Linked DNA regions of Homo sapiens. The protein of the gene in region 2 purifies or fractionates together with the protein of the main gene of each other region. This does not show direct contact. Each region holds a gene or a part of one and is shown on either strand. Other genes may lie near its edges. The genes, in order: CYP24A1 and RBAK.

What was found.
Region 1: the proteins of RBAK (region 2) and CYP24A1 purify together in Homo sapiens (affinity purification with mass spectrometry; one large-scale study listed by BioGRID and IntAct). This does not show direct contact.

The regions. Positions count from the first base shown.
Region 1 is NC_000020.11:54,167,164-54,170,987, forward strand, and holds part of CYP24A1 (1,25-dihydroxyvitamin D(3) 24-hydroxylase, mitochondrial isoform 1 precursor), read right to left. Parts: intron 2,526-3,824; coding exon 2,429-2,525; intron 1-2,428.
Region 2 is NC_000007.14:5,066,190-5,070,013, reverse strand, and holds the end of RBAK (RB-associated KRAB zinc finger protein), read right to left. Parts: 3' UTR 527-3,824; downstream 1-526. UniProt on the Homo sapiens protein: May repress E2F-dependent transcription. May promote AR-dependent transcription.

The DNA.
Region 1 (3,824 bases), on a different chromosome or scaffold from region 2:
TGAGAGTCAATTAGCTTAGTCAGCACCCACCCACAGCTTTTCCAACTACCTCCATGTTTTCCAAACTCTACTTATTTCTTCCCAGCCTTTCAAGGTTTCCCCGTATTTGTGTTCCACAGTGGTTGGCAGGTACACCACTGGGAATATGTGAGATAGCTCTGGATGGTACATGAACTTTAAAAATAATTAGTTACTCTGCTGGGCACAATGGCTCATGCTTGTAATCCCAGCACTCTCAGAGGTGGAGGTGGGAGCATCATCTGAGGTCAGGAGTTTGAGACCAACCGGTGGCAAAACCCCATCTCTACTTAAAAAACACAAAAGTTAGTCAGGCGTGGTATCGCACGCCTGCAATACCAGCACTTTGGGAGGCTGAGGTAAGTGGATCACCTGAGGTCAGCAGTTCGAGACCAGCCTGGGCAACATGGTGAAACCCCATCTGTACTAAAAAACACAAAAATCAGCCAGGCATGGTGGTGTGCACCTGTAGTCCCAGCTGCTCAGGATGCTGAGGCAGGAGAATCGCTTGAACCCAGGAGGTGGAGGTTGCAGTGAGCCGAGATCACGCCGCTGCACTCCAGCCTGGGGCAGAGTGAGAGTCTGTCTCAAATAAGTAATTAAAAAAAGTTACTTATATTTATCTATTTATGGCAATATTTCTGACCTTGAATTTATGGAAGTGTTATAGGTTTTCCTTCTATCCCTCCCATCAGCAGCCACAGTGATCCTCCCAGTAAATCTGCCCATATATCACACTGCTGCTGAATACATTCCCGCAGCTCCCGGTTACTTACAGGCTAAAATTCAAACTCCCGCTCATACAGCCCTCCATGAGCTGGCTGCTGGCCCTCTGCCAGCCTCTGTTACAGGATATGCTTGTCATTCCGCACTTCTTCTGCAGGGACACTCTCCTTCCTCCCTTTTCACCTGGTGAACTCCTACTCAACCATCAGGACTTAGCTGAGGGGCACCATCTCTGTGAAGCGACCCCTGGCCATGTCCGGCTTAGGTGGCCCTCTCAGATTCTCCCACAGCCCTGAATGTCCTCAGCCAGGCGCTGTCCCACCTGATCACAGCTGCCTGCTCTCCTCTTGCACCCCCATGGGCAGTGAGCTCTGCCCTTTATTTCCAGAGTAATCTTTGAAGAAAGCGGTCATGTCCTCCCTCCCTTACTTGCCCCATCTGAGTCAGATGAGAGGTAAAGTCTTGCCAGGACCTATGAGCTGTGCCCTGTTGGACACCTGCCTTCTTTTTGACCTCATCTCCTTTCACAGGCTCCCCTTCCTCCCAGCTTGTTCATCGTGATCCACTCACACCAGCAGCTTGAAGTTCCTCAAACTCGGCGCTCATGCTTCCACCTCCTGGCATTTGCACTTTCTTCTCTGCTGCCTGGAACAATCCTCCACAGGTACCCTCATGATTTGCTCCTTCCCTTCCTTTAGGACTTACCTCAAATGTCTTCTTACTAAAAAAGACTTGCCCCTCTTTCATTCTTTCATGTTATTTCTTTCTCTCTCTCTCTTTTCTTCTTTATTTCTTTTCTTTTTTCTTTCCTTTCTCTTTTTCTTTTCCTTCCCTCCTTCCTTCCTTCCTTCTCTCCCTCCTTCCTTCCTTCCCTCCCTCCCTTCTGCCTTCCCTCCCTCCCTCCCTCCCTCCTTCCTTCCTTCCCTCCCTCCCTCCCTTCTTCCTTCCTTCCTTCCTTCCTTCCTTCCTTCCTTCCTTCCTTCCTTTCTCTGTCTCTCTCTCTTTCTTGAGACGGGGTCTCACACTGTCACCCAGACTGCAATGCAGTGGTACAATCACGGCTCACTTTAGCTTCAGCGTCCCGGGGTCAAGCAATCCTCCCACCTCAGCCTCCCAAGTAGATGGGACTACAGGCATGTGCCACCAACCCTGACTAATTTTTGTATTTTTTGTAGAGACAAGGTTTTGCTGTGTTGCCCAAGCTGTTCTCAGATTCCTGGGCTGGCCTCAAGCGATCTGCCCACCTCAGCCTCCCAAAGTCCTGGGATTATAGGCATGTGCCACCATGCCTGCCTTTCATGTTCTTTCTTAACTCCCTTTCTCTTTTCCTTTACTCCTTGGAAGAGTATATTTTAAAATGTGTTTACTTGTTGACTGTCACCTTGTCTAGCATATAAGCTCCCCAAGGGTACAGGGGTTATGCGTTTCATTCATTGTCATATCCCTAGTACCTAGCACAGTGCCAGACACACAGCAAGTATTCAACAAATGTTTGTTGTATGACTCATTAACAATCCATAGTTCAAGGCATAACTTAAGCACCTAAAAGAAGCATTAAAAGGGCTGCTCTGGCCTTTCCCTAGGCAGCAATAATGCCTGTTTACAAAAGAGTTGTCAAAAGAGCCATGTTTTATCCGCAAAATCACCTGCAAAATCAGTGAGCAAGTCTGTGACGACAACTTACTTTCAAACGACCATTTGTTCAGTTCGCTGTACAAGTCTTCAACGTGGCCTCTTTCATCACAGAGCTCATCTATTCTGCCCATAAAATCGGCCAAGACCTTCAAAGAAAACAACCGCAAAAGACACATTTTAAAGCCGTTGAAGGAAAACAAAACTTTAAAGCTCACTGAGCTAACTTCAGGTCTTGCTACATCGCATATTCACTGGCCATAATGTTATTCATCCTGAAGTCACACTAATTATATATTCTCCCTGGGAACCCACCTTATCCCCTAATGACCTCGTCCTGGGTTATTTCCTGAGCTTTTCCTGAAGCCACCCTGAAGCTTAAGTTTCAGCTTTTGATCTAAAAATAATTCTGGCAATTTAAGAAAAGGAAAACATTTTTTTTTTCTAATCAGAATGGGGGAATAAAACCACAAAGGAATCAGCTAACTGTCCCTGTTGGCCCAGCATCTCAAGGATTGTGTTGCAGCAGCTATCCTGAGGTGTGCCCTTCCACATCTGGGCAAGCAAACGTCTCTTTATTGGTTGGTGGTTATGTTAAGCATGTTGAACTTGGAACCAGAAGATCTACCAATTCTGGACACAGCTCCTTCCCTAAGTAGTCTATGACCTTGGGATAGTCACATAAGACCTTTGGATGCCAGTTTCATAAACCAGAGTTTTCAATAACTAATGCCTCACATTTAATGAGGTCCATATGGTACCAAACACTGTACGAAGTGTATTGGTTGATCCTCTGACAACCAAGTAGTAGTAGGTACCGTCTCTACTCATTTCCCATGTAGTAGATGAGAAAGCTGAGGCTTAAAGAGGCCAAGTCACTCACTTATGCACACAGAGCTGATAAGTTGCCATCCTGGACCCTGCCGTGAGCTGGTGTGGCCATACAGCCCACATGTGTGGATTTAGTTTGCAAGTTTAATTTGCCCGCATAGCGCATTTAAAAGTTCTTTGAATTTGTTACCATTAAAAAAAACAAGAGGTTTCATATGAACATATGGATTTACCACTACTAGTTTAAAAATGTAAATAATAATTATGAGACTTGGTGACATGAGGTCTGCATTCTGACATGGCATTCGTTTGCTGGAACTGGGGCTGCTGTCCCTCCTGGGAGGGGCATGCACTATCACGTTTCCTGAAATTTTTACTGGGTCTGCCTTATTATTTTATATTAGTCATGTGAGCCCTGGAAGCTTCTGAGTTTGCAATCCTTCACCTATATGATCCCATCTGGGGACGCATCCAGTTCAAAATAAACATCCAAAGTGAACAGAAGTAAAAAGAGATTACTTTATGCTTAAAACTCCCTTTGACTCCGTGCTGGCTAAGGGATAATGTCCAAATACCTTAGTATAATACAAAAATATTGTTAAGACCTATCCAGTATC
Region 2 (3,824 bases):
AAAAAAATTAGACAGGTGTGGGGGCATGCACCTGTAGTCCCAGCTACCCAGGAGGCTGAGGTGGGAGGCTCGTTTGAGCTCAGAAAGTCGGGGCTGCAGTGAGCTGTGATTGCACCACTGCACTGCAGGCTGTGGTGAGAACTTGACTCTAAAAATAAGAGAAAGAAAAACAAAAAACAAATGCCTTCCCACCAAAAAAAAAAAAAAAAAAAAAAAAGAGGCACACAGTCTATGCCATCCAATGTCACGTCCTTCTTGCTGTGCTTTTACAAGCTCAGCCAGCCCTCACCCAAAGTGTTTTTTTTTTTTCAATGGTGCAAAGTTTTGCTGACCTGTTTCTTTCACTCACTTACATCTGGGCTGTTAACTGTGTATCTGAGATTTGCTCAAATATTTAGCTGAATACTTTTAAAATAATTTTCCATCAAATCCAACTCAGCATTATATTCATTCACTGCCAAGAAAGGTCACCCCTACAGTAAAAGTTAAGATGAATCCCGAATTCAGAAATGCAAAAAACAATTTGTTTAGGGAAATATGAAATGTTACACATTAGCTTCTTTATTGAAGAGGCAGCTCAGACCTATTTATATATGCAAAAGTATAGGATGACAAAGTATGTAATGATTCTTTAACCTTCTCAAATATTTCACTTAAAATATACATTATGCTAAGCTTTAAGGACAGCGTAGGAAATCTTAGTAGTTGCCATCAAAATTACTATAAATATGTATTTCCTGCACAGAATTATGCAAAATCTGCCATTTAATTCCTGTTGTGCAGCATATTCATACACATCTAGAAAAATATGATTAGAGTGATGAGCGACACAAATGTTAGCCATTTGTGATTTTAGAAAACTTTTATGGAAAGTTTAACACACATGCAGAAAAATACACATATCTTAAGTGCACAGCTCAAAACACACTCAAATACTTAGCACCTAGGTTTAGAAACAGATTATTCCCAGCACCAGATAAATGCCCCCTTTCAGCCTTGGCCAAGGCTAACTGCTACCCTAATTTTAAACCACGTATACAAGTTTTGCCCGTCTTTATAATTTATATAGAAGGAATCATACAGCATGTTGGCTTTTGTGTCTGGAGTCTTTCATTCAGCAAGGTTTGTTAAATTCAGCTGCGTTATTACACGGACTTCTAGTTCATTCATGCTCACTGTTTTACAGTATTCCATGGACATATGCCACTTCTTTATTCATTCCATTGCACATGTGCCTTAAGATAGTTCTGTTTTGTGCAGTTTTAGGCTATAAATATTCTAGTGCATGTCCTTTGGTGGACAGACACATGCATTTTTGCTGGGTTTGGGTAAAACAGTATACATATGCTTGGCTTTTAGTGCCAGCTTTCAAAATGGTTTTATCGATGAGCAATTCCACCAGTAGTGTACAGTTCCTCTTGCTTACATCCTTGCCAAAACGTGATGCTTTTTCATGCTTTTCATTTTAACCATTTCCATGGATGGGTAGCAGTGCTACATGTTTTAAGTTTGCATTTCCCTGATTACTAATAAAGCTAACACATCTTTTCATGCTTATTGGCCGTCTGGATATCCTCTAAAGTGAGTGGATATCCTCTAAAGTCTTTTGCCTTTTCCAGTTTCCCCCTTGTTGATTTGTAGGTGCTCTTTACATATTCGAGATCAGGGACCAGAAAACTATGAGTGCAGACCAAATCCAGACTGCCACCTGGGATTGTGAATGGTTTTACTGGGAAGCAGCCATGCTCATTTTTTTTTTAATGCATGGTGTATGGATGCTTTCACACAATAGCAAAGATGAGCAGTTGTGACAAAGCTGAAAATTTTCACCATCTGGTGCCTTGCTTTATAAAGTTTGCCAACACTTCTGCTATACTCGGTGCTGTTGTCACATACATGAACTGCAAATATCTTCTCCTCCCCATGATTTCCTGTTCATTTTCTTACTGGTGGTCTTTCTGATAAATAGAAGTTCTCAAATTTAATATTAAGTTCTAATTTTATGGGTTAATGCTTTTTGGGTCTCAATAAACCTTTGCTTACTCCAAGATTACAAACTGTCCTAAGATTTCTTTGTAAAGCTTTCACATTTCATATTCAGATCTGCAATCCACCTCCAAATAACTTTTTATCAAATTACAAAATTTTATTGGCAAAGTACATTTACTGGAAAGAACACCCTTTCCCCCACTACACTTCAATGTCACCTTTCTCAAAACTCAGGTGATGGTATACACGTGGGTCTACTTTTGAATCTGTATGCTGTTCCACTAGTCAGTTTTTTCATCCTTGTGCCAAATTAACACCTTCATTATTTCTATGGCTTTATAACAGGTCTTGATATTTAGAAATTTCAATCCTCTCTGTCCATTCTACAGGATAGCCTTGACAATTATTCGACTTTTGAATATGCATATGAATTCTAGAATTAGCTTGTTAATTTACATTAAAGAACTTGCTAGGATTTTAAGGTTGCAATGAATTTAGGAAAAAGCAATAGTTTTGAGATTGTCCTGGAATCCTATCCCTCTCCTCCTTTGTAATTTTATTTTCTGGATACAGTTCTTCAAAGCATATTAACTCATTTTCTCCCTCTAGGCACTTGAGGGATCTTTGAAGTGGCATTGCTTTTCAAAATTTCATTTTCCATGTTTTTTGCTGGTATATCATAAAATGCTTTTTGCATAACTTTTATGCAGGGAACTTACCAAATTTACTCATGGCATCTGCAAATAGAGATTTATATTCTTTTTCGTTTTTAAAGTTTTACTTCTTTTCTAATCTCTATGCCTTTTGTTTCTCTTCCTTGCATTAGTTTTCTGGTTAGGTCCTTCTGAACAATGCCGAATAAAATCATTGACAGCAGATATCCTTGTCTTATTTTTATAATCTTAGGAGAAATGTTCACTATTTCATCATTAAGCATATTGTTTGTTGTAGTTTAAGTCTCTTTATGCAGTTAAGTAAGTCCCTTTCAATCCATCATTTGCTAAGATCATAAACGAACATTAATTGTACCACAAGAATGTTCTGCATGCCAGATTACTTTTCTACAGGTGGTGTATAATAGCAACTGACTTGTGAATATTAAGCCACCTTTGCATTCCTGGAACACAATCTATTTGATTACCATTTTACCTTTTCCCAGAACAAGTCCATCTTTGTTTTGTTTACCCAGTATCAGGTCATATGACCACTATAAAACAAGTTACTGGCAAAGAGAATGAAATCATTATTATTTTGACTAATCAGGATTCCCCTGTGTCATGTGAAGAAGTGGTAGGTACCTAAACTGTTCCAGCAAGAAATGGAGCGAGGACATTAAGTTAATTGATCAAAAAATATCTGCTAGAAACTTGAATCAATTTGTTCTGAAATACTGGGAAAAAGGAGAATGCACAAAACAATGACACTGTATTTGTACCAAACAGAAGTTTGTGAATAAAATTTCTAAATTACAAAATATTGGCACTAGGCACACTCAAACCTATGGGTTAAAAAACAAGGGTGGTGTGAGAGCTGGGGATATTTTAGAGTATGGGCAGTATGCTTGTTCTCTTTCACTGAAATAGACTTAAACAATTCCAAATTATGTATGTATAGTTTATCAAAATAGTCTTTTAGAAAATCTTATCTTACTCAGATGCAGTTGAAAACTTTACAAAACGACTGCCTCCTGTACTAATGAGGCATTTGTTAAAAACCCATTTGTAAATTCCTCTAAATAGAAAACTAGGTATTTTACCATTTTATACCTATTAAATATTATCTCACCAACAATATGTCCTGTCTTAATACATTTTGCCATCCTAATACTCAAATAA